Linked DNA regions of Homo sapiens. The protein of the gene in region 1 interacts with the protein of each later gene in a pairwise test. Each region holds a gene or a part of one and is shown in the gene's direction. Other genes may lie near its edges.

Region 1 (3,581 bases):
AGCAGTGGGAAGGAACAGGGTGTCACTTGGAGCCCAAGTGTCTCCCAAGGGGTTTTGCTTTTTTTGTTTTTCACATTATTTTGAGAGGAAGGGGATGAAGATGAAGGTTGTTAGCATGTTTGTTTCCTTACATTTTCCTTCTCTCTCTCTTTTTTTGATACATTCGAAGGACTTGTATTGTTGTTATTTTTAAAATCATGTCATGCAGTCTTCACTACTGGCTTAAATTTGTAAAGGCAGTGGCAGGAAAGGCCACGTCAGCGTGGGATTTTTGAGTGAAATGTCTACTGTGGCTTGGGCCTTCTTCAAGAATCAGCATTAACTTTCCTTCCTCTGTTGATCTGTGTAGATTCAGTTAGTACTTTAATCATTTTATTATTTTTCAAATTAATGTTTGTTACCTTATTTTGGCTGAATGGAAACTATCTCTAGCCCGCTTCTGGAAAAAACTTTGTAAATACATACAGAATCATTTTGGAAGAATTGTCGTGATCGATCCTCATTAGGCCCTCTAGTTCCCACCAGAATTGGCTTTGTAAAGAGCAGATTGTTATTCCTTGGATGGTACATTGGACTGCTTTGGTTTGGACTTATTAAGAAAGCAACAGTTGCCATGATCTTCATCTGAACAGCTTCCCATCTGCTCACTTGAATCACCTTGCCAGGTTGGAGCAGGAGGCTGCCATATTGTTTACTTTTGGGATTCTGCCCTTTCTGTCCCTCACTATTTTTTCTATAGTAGGATATGTTGCTTGAAGAGGGGTGAGTCTTCCAACCCAGTACAAATCATGGTGACACCACGCAAAATTGAAAATGAGAAAGGTGTTTGATCCAGTTGTCAGTCTGCAGATGGGCCAAGAGTAGGTTGAGATTAGCTCTTTCTGTCCTGGCTAATGTACTTGGTTGGGAAATGCCAATTCAGGTCCTAAAATGTGCCTTAGAGAACTGTCCAAAAAATGAGCAGCATGAGAGGAGAAAACACAAACTGTATCTTTCATTTATAATTTTGATAATCATTTAGAAGACTTCTTAATGATGCCTAGACAACATATGAAGTAAAAGTGATATAGGAATCCTAAATTTTAGAGGAGAAAGGGCATACAAATCAGAATCAAAGGTTTATTGTGTGTGTGTGCACCTTTCCTTTCCTTTTTTTTTTTGCATCTTTCCATAAAGGGATAGAAACTTATTTAAAATGTCCATGACTTATGATATGAACCAAATAGGAACTATTTGAATTTTCCCTGTCTTCCTGCCTCACTCTCTCCCATTCCTGTCAAATGATGGGACACAGCACAAAAGAAAAATAAAAATTGTATTGCACTTCATCAACAGGATGAGGCCTAATGAGGCTTGCACAGCATTGTCAAAAATGTATGTATATTTCAACCACGTTAATATTTTATTTAGCTGTCAATATACAACAAAAGATTTCACCTTTCATTTTAGAGCTGATTAGGACTTAGGAAATTGTCTTCTTAGATGCCACTAATAATGCCTCAAAAAACAAGTGGACGTGCGATTTCTGGCAGGTAGTCCAAGCCCACTTTTCCGCCCAAGTACGTCAGTTGAATTTGTCTTTTGCTAAAGATGTTAAAAATCATAATGTCTTATGTCAGTAGCAATAATGAATTGGCTTTAATGACATTATGAGAATCATTATGTTTAATTTATCGCTAATTAATGCTGACAGGTTTCATATGCCTTGGGTTGCTTTCATGTGAGTGTTACGTGCTGTTTTTTTTTTTCTTTTTAATTGTGTGTACACATCCCTCCTCATTCATTCATTTTGATTCTGACGATTTACACAGCTTTCTGTCTTCTAGGTTCCCTCCCCATATGGTCCCACCACATCATACGCTACACACGACGGGCATTCCGCATCCGGCCATAGTCACACCAACAGTCAAACAGGAATCGTCCCAGAGTGATGTCGGCTCACTCCATAGTTCGTAAGTGTTGCTGTTTTTCTCACCTTCTTCGTAGCCGCAGTGTTCTGCAAGCCTGTTGCAGCTGCTGGGTGGTGGCTTTCTGCCTAAGGTTGGCCTCGTTTGGTTTGACTGCAGCCAATACCCAGCCTGTGTGGGCTCTTCACTCCCTTACAAAGAGAGAGAGAGTGCACAGTGGCAGAATCTCACTGTACCACCGTGGGTTAGAACAGAACTGTTTTTTGTGTGTGTACTTGGATACACTGGGATTTGCAACCACTTCCCTGCCCCCTAACCGCATCATTGAACATTTAGAGCTTTGTTCTGCAAGCAGGAGAAAACCCTGCCGAGGTGAAGACAGCAACCATGTGCTTTCCCCTCTGGCTTGGGAAAATTGTATATTTGTGAAACTTGAGGAAGTGATTGCAAAATCCCTCTCTTCCCCCAACCCCTCCCCAAGCTATTTTTGTTCCATTTTCCGGGGTGCAGAAGAACTAAAAGCATGCTTTTTAATCCAAAACTGCTAGGCTTGGGGGTTATGAGACAAGGAGATACGTTCCCTGCCATGGAGGAAGTTGGACCACGACCTTGTTTATTGGGTTGCGTCTGTTTTGTCTATCTCCAGAAAGCATCAGGACTCCAAAAAGGAAGAAGAAAAGAAGAAGCCCCACATAAAGAAACCTCTTAATGCATTCATGTTGTATATGAAGGAAATGAGAGCAAAGGTCGTAGCTGAGTGCACGTTGAAAGAAAGCGCGGCCATCAACCAGATCCTTGGGCGGAGGGTAGGTGACGCCCTTCTCAGGGAGAAGCGGGGGGCGGGTGGTGAGGGACCAGAGTGCAGCAGGTCAGGTGGCAGAATGTCTCTGTCCCCATTTCTTTGGAGAATTCTTGCCCTTCAGCCACATTCTGAATCCTTGAATGGCCTTCACTGAGTCAGGACTAGTTATTCTGCACTCAGCGTTCAGAACAGCCACAGCCATGCTCTTCCCCTACCCGAGCGAGTGAGCAAATGACAGAATGACATAGATAACAAATCAAGTTTTGTCTAAACATTCCTGTTAGTGCCAGGACCCAGCCGACGGTCAGTATGTACAGATTATACCATTTCTGGACGGACTCACCCAAAAAGGCAGCATTATTTATCCCCTGACCTTGGCGTAATGTGTGATGTTCTTTCATGCTTTTCTCTTTGTTCATGTCTTTCTCATCTGTACCCCACGTCCCCTCCAGTGGCATGCACTGTCCAGAGAAGAGCAAGCGAAATACTACGAGCTGGCCCGGAAGGAGCGACAGCTTCATATGCAACTGTACCCCGGCTGGTCCGCGCGGGATAACTATGTAGGTGGATCATTTTCGTTAGGATTGGAGTCTGTAGAGCTGTGTTGTGCGTCTATACGGACAAAGAGAACAGGACCTGCCACTTGACTAGGGTGGGCCTCAGGACCATCCAATCTGCCCGCTTTGGGGACTGGTAGCATCTTCCTGGATCGCTAAACTGCAGGGAGGGGCTTCCCGTGTGGATGGTTGGATCAGCTCACAGTCATTCTTCAGGGTGGAGAGAGGAGGCTGCAGTCCCAGTGTTCCAGCTCAGGACCAATGAGGTTGATTTGGTGCTTGTCTCCTTTCTAGAGGAGGCAAGGCTCTTAGGAT
Region 2 (3,581 bases), on another chromosome or scaffold:
TTTAATATCCCAGTACATTTTTTTTTGGTGTTAAAAAGCTTAATTTATTTTGGGAGAGATTATATTATGAATTTCATAAGTCTGAAATACAAATTATACTTTAGTGCTAGGAATCTAGCTTTTGAACCTGCATGGAAATTTTTGTACCTGCATTTGAATTTACATAATTTAAAGGTTCAAAAAACTTTTTTTTTTTTTTTTAAATAGAGATGGAGGCTTGCTGTGTTGGCCAGAATAGTCTTGCTATGTTGGCCAGAGTGTTCTCAAACTCCTGGCCTCAAGCAGTCCTCCCACCTCAGCCTCCCAAAGTCCTGGGATTACAGGCATGAGCCACTGTTCCCTGCTGCCTTTTTTTTTGGGGGGGGGGGGAGGTCGAGAACGTCTAAAATGTGAAAATGTGTATAATTGTGGGTAAAGAGCCAGTACATATAAGAGAAACAACTTGATTGTGTTCTGTCTTAAGAATAGGAGCATCATTACAATATTCTAAGTATCTGCTAAGTCAAAGTGACAGTTGTTAAAAGAAGCCTCTTGTTTTTTTCTCAGGTGAAACCTAAACATTTGTCTTGCATTGGAGTCTGTTCTTTTTTGCTGGCTGCTAGAATAGTTGAAGAAGACTGCAATATTCCATCCACTCATGATGTGATCCGGATTAGTCAGTGTAAATGTACTGCTTCTGACATAAAACGGATGGAAAAAATAATTTCAGAAAAATTGCACTATGAATTGGAAGCTACTACTGCCTTAAACTTTTTGCACTTATACCATACTATTATACTTTGTCATACTTCAGAAAGGTCAGTGGGATTAAAGATACATTTTGTACTTTGAACATTGCTATAGCTAACAGTAAATAATTGGAATGGCAATGAAATTTATATTTTTACCTTCTTCAAACTTTCAACTTTGACTTTATTGGTAAATCTTTTTTTTTTTTTTTTTTTGGAGAAGGAATTTCGCTCTTGTTGCCCAGGCTGGAGTGCAATGGCGTGATCTCGGCTCACTGCAACCTCCACTTCCCGGGTTCAAGCGATTCTCCTGCGTCAGCCTCCCAAGTAGCTGGGATTACAGGCGTGCGCCACCACACCTGGCTAATTTTATATTTTTAGTAGAGACAGGGTTTTTCCATGTTGGTCAGGCTGGTCTCGAACTCCTGACCTTAGGTGATCCACCTGCTTCTGCCTTCCAAAGTGGTGGGATTACAGGCGTGAGACACCGCGTCTGGCCCTGGCAAATATTTAAAATCATTTAAAATCATTTAAATCTTTGGAAGTTTAATAAATCTTTGTTCTTTGCATTGTATAGGAAAGAAATACTGAGCCTTGATAAACTAGAAGCTCAGCTGAAAGCTTGCAACTGCCGACTCATCTTTTCAAAAGCAAAAGTAAGTCGATTCCTTGCTTATGTATATATCTCACAGTTTGTATTTTGAATTTTTAAAAAATATTTTTCTTTTTTTTCTTTTTTCTTACAGCCATCTGTATTAGCCTTGTGCCTTCTCAATTTGGAAGTGGAAACTTTGAAATCTGTTGAATTACTGGAAATTCTCTTGCTAGTTAAAAAACATTCCAAGGTAATTACAGTCATTATTCTTTAAGGCAAATTTTTTTCCTGATGTTTATTTTTTTCTGTGGTGACTTAAACATTAAGTAATACTTTATGGGACTCTTAACTTTTACACTTGTTTTTTTTCTTATATCTCTAGTGTTAAAGTTCTCAAAATGCAGCTTTGACCCAGACAGTATTAATCCGGAAGGGAACCTGGTCACTTAGCTCAGCTTCTTTCTGCATATAGGTGCCCCTTCTGTAGTAATCATGCCATATGATAGTACAGCTGTTACATTGCCACATATGCATTGTTCTGAAATGCATACTAGGTAGTAGACTCAGAACAAACACTAATGGGATAGGATGGGATCCCATCACACCTGTAGGACTGAACTGTCATCCCATTAGCAGCAGCATCAATTAACACCAGCAATGTTGATGTTTTAAACCCGAATGTCTTTTCAAATCCTTTAGGCCAGCTAAGTAAAAGTAAGTCTTACCATCACAAAGAGATATAAAACAAAAGCACAATACTTTTTCTTAAACTCTCAGTCTAGTTGGGGAAATGAGGAACTTAACATGAAGTGGTGTGTTCTGTCATTTGTTATTGTGTCTTGGTGCCAGGTAATAGTGAATATAGAGAGTACTTTGGGATTTTTTTTTTTTTTTTTTTTTTTTTTGAGACAGTCTTGCTCTGTTGCCCAAGCTAGAGTGCAGTGGCATGATCTTGGCTCACCGCAACCTCAGCCTCTCGGGTTCAAGTGATTCTCCTGCGTCAACCTCCCGAGTAGCTGGGGCTACAGGTGCTCACCACCATGCCAGGCTAATTTTTATATTTTTGGTAGAGATGGGGTTTCGCCATGTTGGCCAGGCCGGTCTTGAACTCCTGACTTCAAGTGATCCCACCTGCCTTGGCCTCCCAAAGTGCTGGGATTACAGGCGTGAGCCACTGTGCCCGGCTTACTTTGGGTTTTTTTTAAGCAAAGAAATAGGGCAGACTAGGAGAAACACTATGACTGGGAGCCTGTTTGGAGCAAAAGAATCTTTGACAGTGAAAGTTTCAGCGAAGGCTTAACGGCCAAGAAATTGGTGGACTAGACAGATATAAAAGTCATTTTAGGGTAGACTTACAGGTACAATGTCTAGGTGGTAGTCACAAGCAGGAGTAAGGCTGTCCAACTCAAACAGTGGTTTTGGAAGCCAAGCATGGAAATGAGGCAAGGAGTCTTGAATGACCAAGATTTGTACCTAATGGTGGATATAATATTAGCATAATTGGCAGGAAATTTGGGAGAAGTTAATTTGTGATGAGAGCAATATGATTTTAGATGCTTGTGTACACAGGTGGGTGTCTAGTAGGTGTTTGGCGTTTTGGAATAAGAAGATAAACTATAGTTAGAGATTGAGGTTTGGAATTTCTCATGAAGAAGCAGTAGTTGAAACGGTAAGAAGCTGTGGAATCCTTTTTGTAGGGGTCAGTTGAAGCTCTGGGGTTTTCAGCGTTGGCCTTTCCCCCCAACATTAGGAGCCAAGTGAAGAAAGGTACATCCCCACAAGTAGAAGCACTGTCAGACTGGAAGGAGGTTTTTAAGGAGGTGGTCAGGAGTATTGAATTTTTATAAGAGATCCAATATAATGAAAATTGAAGGTCATTGGGTGTGTCAGAGGTAATGTCAGTAGAGCAGTGAGAAGGAAGTGGTAGAAACCAGATTACAAGTGGGTTAGGATGTAGCTACATTAGGTGAAAATGGGAAGCCAAGAAAATAGATCTTCTGTTTTCTGGTGAAAATATGTGCATGTGAAGCATTTTGTTTGTAACAGATAACTTTTTGCTTTAGTTATGATTTTATTAGTTTTTATCTGAACTTTTTATTGATAGTGATAGCTGGAACCATCTTCAGTGAAAATTGATTCGTTGAAATAAACTGAAGGCATTCCGAAGGAGGAGGGAAAAAAATACGTAAAAAGAAAAACAAAAAAGAAATAAACTGGAGCACTGCCCAGTGGTGGCGGAACTATGTCCTTTTTGGGAA
Region 3 (4,314 bases), on another chromosome or scaffold:
GTATTAACACAATGGTGAGGGTATCTTTACTGGTGTGAGCACAGTTCCACTGTATGGATGATCGTGATGCTGGAGTGGTCGATGGTTGGTACCTCCAGTGCCAGCTGGGGATTTATGGATGAACACAGGTGAGTAGTCAAGTGGGAAAAATGGCAGCATTCAGTTCATCTTCCTATTCTTCCTCCAGGTGTCTTCTTAGAATCAGGATCAGGTGCAAACCCAGGGGGGTTCCTGTAGCAGCAGTGAAAATTCCAGTGCCTAAGCTATATATGTTCAAGCAGGTCAGGTGGATGTCGCATGCGTCAGTTTGACTACAGCAGAACCATGAGAGATGTTTCCTTTAGAGTTGGCCCACAAGACAGTCTGGCTGCAATCCACAGGCCACAGACAACTGGAGGGAGTGGATCTCTCCCAGTTTCCTTCCACTTAGCATGAAAGCCTCAGAATAAGCAGCCCAGGGAGCAGAGAGACTGACATTAAAGCCTGCAATTCCTCTTCCAATTTTGATCACAGCAGCCATTTAAACACAGGGTCTACCGAGGTTTAAAAAACTTGAACTGTGCTTAGTTGCACTCTGAAATAGTCCTGCTCCTCCCCTGACCTACGAGAGACAGCAAAGAGACGTGTCAATAGCCTCCGCATGAGGCTTCAGAGGAGCAGCTGTGTATGGCAGGACGGAACAAAACCTGCCCATAGTATCTTTTACGACAACATGTTTCCACTTAATGCAGACCACTGAAAAGAATGTGGGAGCTTTTAAAAAAAAATTATTATAAACATAGGTTTGTGACCTTGATGTGGAAGGCAGCTAGAATCTCTGCTTTTAGAGGGCTAAGCAACACCAGGCAGCCTTCAATCTTAGAAGGGTTAAGCTGAAAGGGTCTCAAAAGGTCACGTGGTTTATATAATCCTACCTGCAGAAGACCCCCCCCCCCGCCAGGCACAACGATTTTACAGACGAGGAATGTGAGGTGCGGAGAGGTTAAGGAAGGATTTATCTTATTTGCATAAGGAGTGGAAGAACTGAAACCGAAGCCCCAGTTCCTTGACTGTAAATCCCGCACTTGCTTCCAACTGTCTTTCATCCAGATTATGGGATTCAGCTGCCTCTGAAAACCTGTAGCCCAATAATGGTTATTCCCCAGGAGCCGCGCGAAGCATGAGCTAATTTTCAGTGAGCGCGGACTTTGGGGTAACGGTTCCAGCACAGCACATCCCTTTCTCCTCTTTTCACTCATCGTCACCGCTACCTGAAAACCCTGGCCGGGTGCTGGGGCTTGAGGAGCAGTTCCCACTTCCCAGTCTTTTTCACTTTTCACAGCTGCAAAGTTCAGGGAGTTGAACTGCAGTGCTTTCAGTTCACTGCTCACTCTGCCACGATCAATCTCTGTTGTAAATTTTCCTCCCAGAGCACGTGACGATGCACTTCTTGACTATATATCCCAACTGCAGCAGCGGAGTTGTCAGAGCGCAGAGCCGGACAGAGCAGAAGAACCCTCTTGGACTGGACGATTTGGGAATTCAAAACTTGGGACAAACTGTCAGCCTTGGTAAGTCAGCAAGGCTACACTTTGCTTTCAGAAACATTTGAAAGAGGGACATTTTTGCCAATTAATAGATGAATTTTTTTCCTTTATTTTCTTCCTGCTTTTCTTTGTTCTAAGGAAACATTGTTTTGAATTTAAAATAGTTTGGTTTTGGAAACACAATGTAAACTTTGTTTCTGCTCAGTTAAAATACGTTTCCCAGTTTTAAAGATACTATTTACTGTATGCTCCTGTCTTACATTGATTTTTTTTTTAATCAAAGTAATACTGCTCACTACAAACAGGACAAATGTGTACACTAAAAAAAAAAAAAAAAGTCCTTCTTACTTTTCCCAGTGAACCTTCCCGGGCTTCTCTCCCGTGCACTCCAAGCCCTCATAGCTCACTCTTGTCAGCTGTTTGGCGAACCCTCTTATGCTATTTCTTTCATGCACTTTTAAGCTTTTTTGGTATTGCAGTTCCACAAACCTCGTGCTCCCCCACCTCCCTGTGCCCAGGACCTGGGGGAGAGTTCTAACCTGCGGCTTTTTCCCCAGCCCCTGCTGTGGAGGCAGCCTCAATGCTGAAAATGGAGCCTCTGAACAGCACGCACCCCGGCACCGCCGCCTCCAGCAGCCCCCTGGAGTCCCGTGCGGCCGGCGGCGGCAGCGGCAATGGCAACGAGTACTTCTACATTCTGGTTGTCATGTCCTTCTACGGCATTTTCTTGATCGGAATCATGCTGGGCTACATGAAATCCAAGAGGCGGGAGAAGAAGTCCAGCCTCCTGCTGCTGTACAAAGACGAGGAGCGGCTCTGGGGGGAGGCCATGAAGCCGCTGCCTGTGGTGTCGGGCCTGAGGTCGGTGCAGGTGCCCCTGATGCTGAACATGCTGCAGGAGAGCGTGGCGCCCGCGCTGTCCTGCACCCTCTGTTCCATGGAAGGGGACAGCGTGAGCTCCGAGTCCTCCTCCCCGGACGTGCACCTCACCATTCAGGAGGAGGGGGCAGACGATGAGCTGGAGGAGACCTCGGAGACGCCCCTCAACGAGAGCAGCGAAGGGTCCTCGGAGAACATCCATCAGAATTCCTAGCACCCCCGGGACCCCTGCCGGTGGCTCCATCAGCCAGCAACCTTAGAGAGAGGAAAGACAGTTTTCAAGTGTCTGGTTTCACTTTCACAGTGCGGCTGCCACTTTGAAGAGACCCTTGGTAAACCCCTGATTCGGGGTGGGGTGGGGGACTAGGCTCAGCCGGAACCAGCACCTCCAAGGAGTCCGGGAGGTGCCTGTGGTTTGCACCCACCACTGAAAAAGCCGCGGAGATGCGCAGCGCGTACACTGACTTTGGGGCCTGGGTGTTGGGGTTCTGATCAGAATTTGGCGGGATGATATGTTTGCCATTTTCTCACTGGATGCCCTGGGTAGCTCCTGCAGGGTCTGCCTGTTCCCAGGGCTGCCGAATGCTTAGGACACGCTGAGAGACTAGTTGTGATTTGCTATTTTGCCTAGAGCTTTGTCCTTCTAGATCTGATTGGCTGTAAGTATCTCTACTGTGTACCTGTGGCATTCCTTCACAGTGGGTTACAAGCTTCTTTTGGATTAGAGGGGGATTTTTGATGGGAGAAAGCTGGAGATCTGAACCCAGCCCATTTGCACACTATAAGAAAAAAAAGTAACTTTTAAACCTGTTAACATTGGCCGGGGTTATAAGAGATGATCTTCTATTTTGACCTTTTGTCTAACTTATGACCTTGAACTCTGACCTGTGACCATGCAGCATCACATGATGGCATGACGTTCTTTGGATCAGAAGAGCTTCCCCAGAATCTAACCTGCACTCCCGATGGTGGTTCAGGAGACTCTTCCTGATCTTTCTAGAAGGGGTAAAGTGGGGTTGAACAAGGCCAAGCCGTTAGCTCTGCTGCTGCTCAGTTTCCCAGCCTAGTTTTCTGAGCTGGGAGAGGACATAATGTGGTATTTCGTCACGTAGCTGAGACCTAGAAGGGCATACTCAGGCGGAGATTGCACAAAGCTGGGCTCCAAGTTCTGTGCTTCCTGATCCCGAGCCCTGACACTCATTTGCTGTGTGGTCCCGGGCATGTCATCAAGAAGCTCGCTGTCTGCATGAGGCTCCCGACGATCTCCATCCCCAGGGGGTTGGGAGGATGTCTTTAGATTTTAGGACTCTGTGATAAATATTCCACAGCCTGGTGTGAGGAAGCTTGGACCAAATGCTTCCCCTTTGGCCGGTTAGTCTGAACAAGGATCTGCTGATTTAAAGGAGCAGTTGGAGATTCAGAACACATATAACTGGGGAATTCAGGGCAAGCTACCAACCCAGCCCTGCTGTAGTTTTCCCAGGACTGAAGGAAAGAGGCAGACACCACATTCTCCTCTGCAAAGTTCTCTGGAGAATGTGTGATGTTAACACTCCCAGCTAAGGGAAAGCAAAGTCTAAAGGAAAACACACAGGAATGCTTCCAATGTCTCCAAGTATTCCTGTGGTCAACAGTTTCGCAGATCCGTTAGGCCCTTAAAGACAAGGAGGAAGTAAAAGGTCAAATTTAAATCTATTTAAAAAAACTTTTAAAAAAATTATTTATTTATTATTATTTTTTATTTTTAAGACAGAATCTCGCTCTGTTGCCCAGGCTGGAGTGCAGTGGTGCAATCTTGGCTCACTGCAACCTCCACCTCCTGGGTTTCAGCGATTCTCCTGCCTCAGCCTCCTGAGTAGCTGGGATTACAGGCGCCTGCCACCACGCCCAGCTAATTTTTTGATTTTTA
Region 4 (3,581 bases), on another chromosome or scaffold:
TTCTCTCTTGCTGCCTCCTCCCGGCTGGTTCACCATCCAAGACCCCTGTCATCTCCATGACAGATGCTGGGAACAGGCTCAGCAGTGGACACAGTCAGGTCTTGTGTTGGGGATGGGGCCAGGAGCCCTAAGAGCAGGCTCCAGTTCGCCCTGCTTCCTCCTGCAGAGGCCAGGTGGTCTTGAAGAGGGGACACGAGTCTGTCCTCATCCTGGAACTGTAAGGGATGCAGGGACATAGGCCAATCTGGCTGGACCCCTGGTGGCTTCCCAGACAACATAGTAAAACTCCGTCTCTACTAAAAATACAAAAAATTAGCCAGGCGTGGTGGTAGGCGCCTGTAATCCCAGCTACTCAGGAGGGGCAGGGTGCAGGTGGGGGTTGGGTGGAGTCGCCCAGTCCTGTTTGGTTGGAACTTTCCATCAGGGTCTCTGTGGTTGACATCTTGTTGCATTTCAGGCTTTTCGGTTCCTTGGTTCTGGACACCACGGAGGCCACTCCAACTCTTTGCTGTAGCTTTAGACAATGCTGTGGGGCAGGTGGGGTGGGGGCATGATCCTTTTGTGTGGTGAGTCCGGGAGGCACACAGGATGAAGCCTCAAGCTCCCATTCACTTTTAAAAACTCCTGACGCCCTCAGCTGCCTCTGAGTTTTTGAGCTTGAGCAGAGGAAATCAAGGAAATTGAGGCTGGCTTCTGATCACATGCCTTTACTTCATCCCCAGCTATTCACGGAGCTTTGCCAACTTAAAATATCCTCATTTGCCCGATGAGGATATTAAAATAAAAAACAGACACCCATTCAACCACCATCTCATATCGTCACCACTTCACAGAGGTAGGGGACATTTTAATGCCCCGGATTTTGGAAGGACGCGGTCTCACAATAAAAGACAGTATTGTAGATGGAATCGGGCCGGCTTTGTAGAGGTCCCTGGATCCTGCTTTGCTTTCACCCTATTTTGTTGCAACCCAGTGGAAATTTTGCCAGAGCAATGCCCTTACACAGGGTGGGATTGGGGAAGCCTGCTCTTAACTGCAGGCCAAATCCTCCATTCAGTTTATAAATGAAAAAACTGAGGCCCGGACTTGCTCCGGGTGGGAAAACTCTCAACCATGAGATCAGAAGCAGACTCCAGGCCTCCCGGTTCCCAGCCCCCAGTCTCCCCTCTGTGACAGTCTGCTTGCTCAGCAACCTGGGAATTAAGATCCTCGTGGCTCACAGGCTGCTGGGGATGGGATCAGGCATTGCCCAAAGCTTCTGCGATGTTTACAGCTAGCAGGCTGACATTCTGGAAGCTTCCACCCAAGGAGTGGTACAGAATCTCTCTGAGCATCTGTAGTCTTAGAAAGAGCACGTGGCCATATCCTTCCTGGGTGTCCAGGGCATGGTCCCCGCAGGCCATGTGACCTGTGTTTCTCTGCATGCCTTGGAACATGGGGCATGCCGCTGATCTACACCATAATCTTTATGGAGGTTTAACTCACCTGGAAAAAATTTAGTTTTAGCAGCTGTCCCAGGCAACAAACGGTATCTGAGGCCTGTGAACTGAGCCAGCTCCATCCATCTGCACCAGTTACTCCGGCAGGCATGTGTCTCTCCTGAAGAGAGGTGGTGGATGTGGTGGCGTGTTGGCCATCGGGCACCGTGTCAGCCTGGAGGAGTGTGTGGTTCCTTTGAAAAAGAATGTTCTCCCAATCCTGGTGTGATAACTTTTCCTTTTGTTTAATTTTGAAGCTTCTGTTTTTTCCTGTGGTCAGTGTGCTAATGTAAGCACTTTTCCTGGATTATCTCATCAATCTTCCCCCATTTTTTTTTTTTTTGAGACAGAGTTTCGCTCTTGTTGCCCAGGCTAGAGTGCAATGGCATGATCTCAGCTCACTGCAACCTCTGCCTCCTGGGTTCAAGTGATTCTCCTGCCTCAGCCTCCCGAGTAGCTGGGATTACAGGCATACGTCACCATGCCTGGTTAATTTTGTATTTTTAGTAGAGACGGGCTTTCTCCATGTTGGTCAGGCTGGTCTCAAACTCCCAACCTCAGGTGATCCACCTGCCTCGGCCTCTCAAAGTGCTGGGATTACAGGCATGAGCCACCATGCCTGGCTTTTTTTTTTTTTTTAGACAGTCTCACTCTGTCACCCAGGATGGAGTACAGTGGCACGATCTTGGCTCACTGCAACCTCTGCCTCCCGGGTTCAAGTGATTCTCTCACCTCAGCCTCCTGAGTAGCTGGGATTTCAGGTGCCCGCCACCATGCCCAGCTAATTTTTGTATTTTTAGTGGAGACTGGGTTTTACCATGTTGGCCAGGCTGGTCTCGAACTCCTGGACTGAAGTGATGTCTGCCCACTTCAGCCTCCCAAAGTGCTGAGATTACACCCATGAGCCACTGCTCCCGGCCTCTTCCCCCATTTTTACAGATGAAGGAAGTGAGCCTCCTTGAGTCTTAGTAAGGGAGGGAGCTGGATTCAAGGCTGAGCAGTTTTAACCCGCAGCGTTGCCTTCCCTGGGAACATTCGAGTTGAAGGTTAACGAGATTTTGCAAGAGTTTGCTCTTGGTTTATATCTAATATTATGCTTTGGATCTAACTCACATGGTCAGATGCAGGGGTCAGATTGAGACTGGTTGATTGAAACTCCTCCGAAACAACAGGAAATGATCTGGGAGAGAAGATTCCAGGTCCCCTGAGGCCCTGCTTCTCTCTTGATCCCCCACAGCCCAGTGTCGAGTTACCAGCGAGTGCCTGTTCTGCTTGGGTGGGTGTCCAGTGTGGTACTGGTCAGAGGTAATTTTTGGATCTCAGAGCTGCTCACAGCTGTTGGCGGTCTGGGATGGAAGAAGCAGGCGTGGCTTCGGTTGGCCCACATTATCCTCCTGACTCACAGTGTTCCAGGGCTGCTCAGCTGCCCTAGGGTTTGTGTACAAATGGCCTTGATTTGACACCCTTCTGAAGGTGGGGGGCCTGACTGATCAGGCAGTTGGTTGGATGCTGTTGACCCCCGCAGAACTCTTGGTACCTATGAGGCGTGGAGTTGGCGTGGGGGATCTGTTAGCCCCAGTCCCCTTTTTGCCCCCACCCCAGCCTGGCCGAGAGTCCTGGGCAGGCACTGAGAAGGCAACACATGGGGTAGGACTTGATGAGCAGGTGGATAGGACAGTGAGGTGGGAGGTGCCTCTGTGGGCCTCAGATGGTCCCCAGCCTGTGTGATGGGGCAGCGAAGCTCAGGACACCTGGTGTTTGGATATCCACAGGTGACCGGATCCCCAGGCAAATGAGCAGCTGGAAGTCCCTGCAGGGATGCGGGAGGCACAGCCAGGGTGGGGCTGGACCCCAGGCCCTTCCCCACTCCCATCGCCCCACCCTCACAGGACACACGGGGGAGCTGTGATCCTCAGGGTGTTCTTTTGTTTTTAGTTTTTTTGTTTTGAGACAGGGTCTCCCCCTGTCCCCCAGGCTGGAGTGTAGTGGTGCAGTCGTGGCCCACTGCAAGCTTGAACTCCTGGGCTCAAGCGATCCTCCCACCTCTGCCTTCCAAAGTGCTAGGATCATAGGCTTGAGCCACCATGCCTGGCCTTTTTGTTG

The links. Proteins that work in one complex are often made in the same cells at the same time.
Region 2: the proteins of TCF7L2 (region 1) and CCNG2 interact in a two-hybrid assay, tested with the Homo sapiens proteins (one large-scale study listed by BioGRID).
Region 3: the proteins of TCF7L2 (region 1) and KCNE4 interact in a two-hybrid assay, tested with the Homo sapiens proteins (one large-scale study listed by BioGRID and IntAct).
Region 4: the proteins of TCF7L2 (region 1) and FBLN1 interact in a two-hybrid assay, tested with the Homo sapiens proteins (one large-scale study listed by BioGRID and IntAct).

Annotation. Positions count from the first base shown.
Region 1 is NC_000010.11:113,149,172-113,152,752, forward strand, and holds part of TCF7L2 (transcription factor 7-like 2), read left to right. Parts: intron 1-1,811; coding exon of another isoform or gene 1,812-1,826; coding exon 1,827-1,952; intron 1,953-2,553; coding exon 2,554-2,713; intron 2,714-3,161; coding exon 3,162-3,269; intron 3,270-3,581. UniProt on the Homo sapiens protein: Participates in the Wnt signaling pathway and modulates MYC expression by binding to its promoter in a sequence-specific manner. Acts as a repressor in the absence of CTNNB1, and as activator in its presence.
Region 2 is NC_000004.12:77,160,175-77,163,755, forward strand, and holds part of CCNG2 (cyclin-G2), read left to right. Parts: intron 1-546; coding exon 547-797; intron 798-1,305; coding exon 1,306-1,384; intron 1,385-1,474; coding exon 1,475-1,573; intron 1,574-3,581. UniProt on the Homo sapiens protein: May play a role in growth regulation and in negative regulation of cell cycle progression.
Region 3 is NC_000002.12:223,050,725-223,055,038, forward strand, and holds the start of KCNE4 (potassium voltage-gated channel subfamily E member 4), read left to right. Parts: upstream 1-1,465; 5' UTR 1,466-1,550; intron 1,551-2,083; 5' UTR 2,084-2,106; coding exon 2,107-2,619; 3' UTR 2,620-4,314. UniProt on the Homo sapiens protein: Ancillary protein that functions as a regulatory subunit of the voltage-gated potassium (Kv) channel complex composed of pore-forming and potassium-conducting alpha subunits and of regulatory beta subunits.
Region 4 is NC_000022.11:45,509,351-45,512,931, forward strand, and holds part of FBLN1 (fibulin-1 isoform D precursor), read left to right. Parts: intron 1-3,581. UniProt on the Homo sapiens protein: Incorporated into fibronectin-containing matrix fibers. May play a role in cell adhesion and migration along protein fibers within the extracellular matrix (ECM).